Linked DNA regions of Homo sapiens: region 2 is linked to region 1. Evidence: fine-mapped expression QTL. A gene starts in region 1. The other region holds a variant in brackets. All regions are shown on one strand. Distances are from middle to middle.

Region 1 (2,910 bases):
AATCGGCTTAAGGTGGTTTTTTTTTTTTTTTTTTAATGAAAAATCTATTTTTGGGGTGGGTGGGTGTGTGTTGTAAATGTATGCACATCCGTATGTAGATATCAAGTCAAAATCTGCTTCCCTGAAGCTTCTATTCATGTTTTGGGTAACTCCTCTCTGGAACCATGATAAATAACAAGTTTTATTTTTATTGTTCAAGTCTTCTTCTTCCCAAAATAAAAGATGGCCCTATTCCTTGAAAGCTGTTCCTTACTCTGGCATTCAAGGTCTGCTATTATCTGGTCTCAGTCTACATCTAATATTATTTTCTAACACTCTTCTTTACTTGAGATAGTTTTAAAGCAACTACTAAAATGTCTGTGGTCTTATAGGCCTAGGCCTTTACTAACAATCTTCCTTTCATCTCTAAGCCCTTCCCTATCCCAGTCTTCAAATGGTTAGAAGATACGGTAACAACAAAACATGGGCTTTGAACTCAGACAGCTCTAGAATCCACTACCTGGCCCATAGTAAGTTCCGGATAAATGGCAGCTACTGTTACTCAAATTAAATAAGGGCTAACAGTTACTGGGCATTTACTGTGTGCCAGGATTGTCTATTTCATCTTCTAGTATTTTTAGGGCGATTGTTGTTATTGTTCTTTTACTGGTAGGTCCAGAGGGTGTTCAGTAAGTAACTTGCCCAAGGTCACAGGGCCAGGAATCCACAGTCCTCTTTGCCAGGAAGCCTGGAGCTCAACGCCCAGGGTCGCACACCACGCGGCTTCCCCTGCAGAGCGTCTCTGCGGCTCACGGGCGCTTCCCTCCCGCAAGCTCCCGCAGCCCCGGCGCTGCCTCGCTGACGGCTCTCCGCCTTCCATGGCCGCCATCTGAACCTGGGCTTCAGCTCTGTCCCCAGCCTCCCGGGGACTCAGATTCCCTGACCCTGATCCGACCCAGAAATTGAGCCAGACACCTCGGGTGGCCTTCGAGTCAATCTCTGGGCACACTCTGGGTGGCCACCAGCATCTAACAAACGGATGTCTGGACCCTAAGGGCCAGGGGGTGAGGGGAAGTGGGGCACACTTTTTAGACGATGGTGGGGCTGAGGCCGGTTGGGCAGGAGATCTGCCTCTGTCTCTCCAGTCACAGGACAGTCTCCTTTCCTCTCTGGGCAAAACTCTAAGGAGCTGGAGCCATCCCTGGGTCCACAGTGTGAGAACGCCAAGGAAGAGCGTTAACGTCATCGCGCCCGGCCAAGGGCGGCCAGGCAGGCAGCGAAGATGCCATCGCGCCGAGGTGGCGGCCACTGCGCCTGCGCGGTCCACGGCGCCTGCGAACAGCCTGATTCCCGCGCTTTCTTCGCGGGCGGGAAGGGCGGCGGTTGCTGACGGGGCCGCCTGGACGACGGTTGACGGAGGCGAGGGAAACTGAGGGCGAAAGTTGTGTGTCGTGTTGGCAGGAGGGCCTAGAAGGGAAAGACTGTGCGTTGATACCAAACTGCCCCCACTCCGTGGGCGGGTCAGGAGAGGCCTTTGGAAGAGCGTCTCAACTCGGACTGGAGCCTCTTCTCTCCCACCGCGGTCAGGAGCCAAAACAGGCCGCCATTTGAGGCCGTGGTTTTTGTGGGTGGTGTGTGTGTGTGTGCGTGCAGATTGAGCACACTTTTTGCACACCAATGCCACCAACCCCATTACTAACGCCACTTAGGTCCATTTGGGAGCTGGGATTGGGGGTAAATGAGGGTCCCCGCCCTCAGGATCAATGGTCCCGCGGGTGGAATGTTACACTTAAAAATTTTGTTGTTGTTTATTCTGTTTGTTTGATCCTGAGAAACATAATAGCCCTCGTAAGCCCCTCTAAATATAGGATGTGAGTTGCGCCGGTGGAGAAAGTGGCAGAATCCCTGTTGTGGCTCCTAGGATGGCGCCAAGAATATTTTCCTTTCCTTTCCTTTCCCTTCCTTCCTTCCTTCCCTTCCCTCCCTCCCTTCCTCCCTCTCTCCATTTTTTCCCTAGAGTCTCGCTCTGTCGCCCAGGCTGGAGTGCAGTGGCGTGATCTCGGCTCACTGCAACCTCCGCCTCCCGGGTTCAAGTGATTCTCCTGTCTCAGCCTCCAGGGTAGCTGGGATTACAGGCACGCACCACCATGCCCGGCTAATTTTTGTATTTTTAGTAGAGACGGGGTTTCACGTTGTTGGTCAGGCTGGTCTTGAACTCCCGACCTCAGGTGACCCACTTGCCTTGGCCTCCCGAAGTGCTGGGATCACAGGCATGAGCCACTGCACCTGGCCACCAGGAATATTTTCTAAAGGGTCCATCTCTTCTACCCAGCTTCAAGCCTAAGATGTGGAAACAAAACAGAGGCAGCACCTGACCTCGTGTTTCCCAAGTTGTTTTTTTTTCTTTTTTTTTTGAGACGGAGTCTCGCTCTGTCGCCCAGGCTGGAGTGCAGCGGCACGATCTCCGCTCACTGCAACCTCCGCCTCCCGAGTTCATGCCATTCTCCTGCCTCAGCCTCACGAGTAGCTGGGACCACAGGTGCCTGCCACCACGCCCGGCTAATTTTTTTGTATTTTTTAGTAGAGACGGGGTTTCCCTCTGTTAGCCAGGATGGTCTTGATCTCCTGATCTCGTGATCCGCCCGTCTCGGCCTCCCAAAGTGCTGGGATTACAGGCGTGAGCCACTGCACCCGGCCTGTTTCCCAAGTTTTATTTTTACAAACGATATTTGAAAGTTAACACCTCGGCCTGACTTGCATTATTGCTTAGTTGTGTATGTGTCGGTCTGTCTGTCTCATTGGGTTGTGAATTTGGAACAGAAGTTACCTGGTTTGGGTTTGTATCTTGCCTCTTCTTGCAGTGGGCAAGTGTTCGTTGTATTAGATTGGGGATGAAATGTGTTAAGGGGCTAAACGTGCAAAATTACAAGA
Region 2 (2,910 bases), 41 kb before region 1:
AATCCCAGCTACTCGAGAGGCTGAGTCAGGAGAATTGCTTGAACCTGGGAGGTGGAGGTTGCAGTGAGCTGAGATCACACCACTGCACTGCAGCCTGGGTGACAAGAGGGAAACTCCATCTCAAAAAAGAAAAAAAAGAAAAAGAAAAAAGAAACACACTATGCAGAGTGATATATTTCTAAAATATATATTTTTTTAAAAAGCAGATTTCAACAAAATCCAAGATTCTTCCAGGAACAACAGCAAAACCACTCTCAATGCATTTGAAGAAGTCGAGGAATTCCCGGAAACCTCGGTGTAGAAGCGGAACCCAGAGCTGGTGTGCGCGTGCGCTGTCTGGCGCTGCAGGCGGAGTCACCGACTCTGTGCAGAGAGGCTTTGAGGGATGGTGGAGTCCGGCTCTGCTGGCCTAGAAGCAGAGTGCACCCTCGTGCTCAGTGCTCAGTGGGTGTCTGAACTGAGGGGCAGTTGTCAATTTGTCTGAGTGGGAAACATCCTGGATTTTGTTACTTGGCAAACAGCTGGTGTAAACCTACAGCCAGCAGCAGTCTGGAGCCTGGGAGCCTCCTGAAGTCCCGGGTGAAGCCTCTGGTTTTACCAATTGCAGGTCGGCTTGGCTGGGAGAGATGGATGGCGGGAAAGGGGCAGCAGTCTTGAGGAGCAGGGAGAGGAGTCTTTCCTCCTGCCAGCTTCCCCCGTCAGCCCCAACCCCAGCCCACACATTGTACCATCTCTTCTGCTGTGACTGGGTTGCCTGAATTTGTGGGAGACCCGTGATCCCATCCCAGAGTGTGCGGGGGACGGAGGTAAGCTGGATATCCTGGGGGAGGAGGGGAATGCGCTCTGGAAACACCCTTCCGGAACCCTTCGGGGAAAAGGAGACCATCCTTGGAGTGAACGTCCCCTGACACCCCAAGGTTCAAACTGTCTCAAGCTGAGAGATGTTTTTAGTAGCAGAATTAACACAGGGTTTTAACTTGCAATACGGAAAAGACATTTCAGTTGAGAATGAAAATTACTACAATGAAGTTTGTGATTTTAAAAGTGGAGACAGACTGGGGGCTTTGGGGCTGGATGTAAGTATTATATATTTGGCCTCAGGGTGCCCAGAGCAAGACAAAAAGCTTTTCTTCACACACACAAAAGTCTGCATGAGACACTCCGGGCAAGTCCTGCTGGGCCGCCGCGATCTGGGTGAAAGG[T/G]CCTGGCTCTTTTCCTCGTCCTGACCTCACAGTAGCGCGTGCCTGTGTGCTGGGATCGTGGCTTTCGCTGAAGCAGAAATAGCAGCTGCTCGATCGATATCATCTTGGAACTCAGCAGTTAGTCGCATACCTCAGTATGTCTCAGTGGGGGAATTTAACAAAATGCCTCAACTGCTTTGGTACGAAGTATTTTTTTTTTAATTTTAACTGTGAATTTTGAAGCTGAAGGGGAAGCTTGTGAGAGAAAAGCATTTGCCAAGACTTTGAGCTTATTTTTAGGTCCTCGTCCTCTGATGTTCTCTTTCTGAAATGACACGGAGTCAGTCTGGGGGGCAGAGGTGAAGTGGAGACGGAAGGATTTTCCAGGTGACTGGGGCCGAAACCACCAGAAAATCCACTCTGCCGCCGTTATCTGGTGAAAGGATTCATGTAAAAATGTTCGAGGTGGAATTATAAAAATAGTAACCATAAATGTTAATCTTAAATGGCAGAAATAGAAATTTGGCCTTCAGATAACATGGCGATAGATAAGTTCATCTGGCTTGAGGCAAACTGAAGAGTCGGGGCCTAGCAGTGCACTCTGGGCCAGTTTCTCTGCCCTGGGCCACTCTGTGTGCCAGACTAGCTGGACAGATAGAGACTTTGTGCCCCTGATGGGGCCGATTGGGGAGAGGTGGGCTGGGGTGTGTGAGGCTTCACAATCCACAGCAGCCCCTGCCCTCCCAGCTGACCCAGGGAGTAATCGCGTGCTCTAAGCCACAGTGGTCGGGGCTGGGCATGGGCCTCTGGAGAAGAGAAGATTTGAGGAGAACTGTCCTAGAGGCAGGAGGAGCAGATGTGTTTCAGAATGGGCAGAATTAGGAAATTGAGAAAGATTTTGGCTCAACAGAATCCAGCAACTGCTCCAGATGTTGGAGATGTTTAAGCAGAAGCTGGTTGCGCACTTAATGAGGAATGTTGTTGAAAATGGTCATTGGAAGAAGTTTAAGGTCCCTTTTAGCCTGGAGATTGTACAAATCAGCATTCCACATCTGGAGTTAGCTACCCGCATTAAGCCTGAACAGACATCTTGGTCTGAAAGGAAGTGGTTTGGATTCATGATGCCAAGCTCCACACTATGGAGCTGGGAATTCCAGAATTGCTTTGACTCAGATATTAATGGAGAAAGTCATATCCATTAATGGATAAAGCCGTATCTGTTATGGATAAAGCCGTATCCAGAGTTGCTTTGACTCGGATGTTAATGGATAAAGCCAATTATTGATTTCTATTTGCCTAACCTGCCAGCTTTTGTCCAAGTGGGGAATGGAGAGCCATAGGGATGTTTGTCATCTCACATGTTTTGGTGATCTGCTGTCTGTGGGTCTGGATGGAATTTGTTGGCAAGACCATTTTCTGTATTGGATATTCTTCCCAACAGTGTCCACCCCAAAAGGCTTTCAGCCAAAACGTCTGAGCCTAGGTAGGTTTACCAAGGGAAGCCATAAGTCAAGAAGCATCAGAGTGAAAAGGAGCACTTCCTTCATTTTACGCCCAGAGGCTAATGCTCCGAGAGGAATGTGTACTTGGGCAAAGTCATGCAGGAAGGTCATATCAGAGCTGTGGAGGCTGGAGTGTCCTGATTCTTGGACCACAGATGTCTCCCTGAGCCATTATTTATTTATTTTTAAAAAGCACAGTTATTCCATCATTTTGAGTCTTTGTATTT

What was found.
Region 2: its variant is fine-mapped to the expression of SPATA22 in skeletal muscle (GTEx, PIP above 0.99). The same link has a PIP of 0.9 or more in esophagus muscle, gastroesophageal junction, spinal cord, subcutaneous fat and tibial nerve.

Annotation. Positions count from the first base shown.
Region 1 is chr17:3,470,234-3,473,143 of GRCh38, reverse strand. SPATA22 (spermatogenesis associated 22) reads left to right here and starts at 1,325. Exons shown (of 9, transcript NM_001170698.2): 1 at 1,325-1,462.
Region 2 is chr17:3,511,308-3,514,217 of GRCh38, reverse strand. TRPV3 (transient receptor potential cation channel subfamily V member 3) reads left to right here. Exons shown (of 18, transcript NM_145068.4): 18 at 207-2,910. The coding sequence ends at 301. It also overlaps a transcript of SPATA22 not described here. Among named protein-coding and RNA genes, the nearest start is that of ASPA, 37 kb to the right of the region's middle. The variant T/G (reference allele first, on the strand shown) is at 1,203.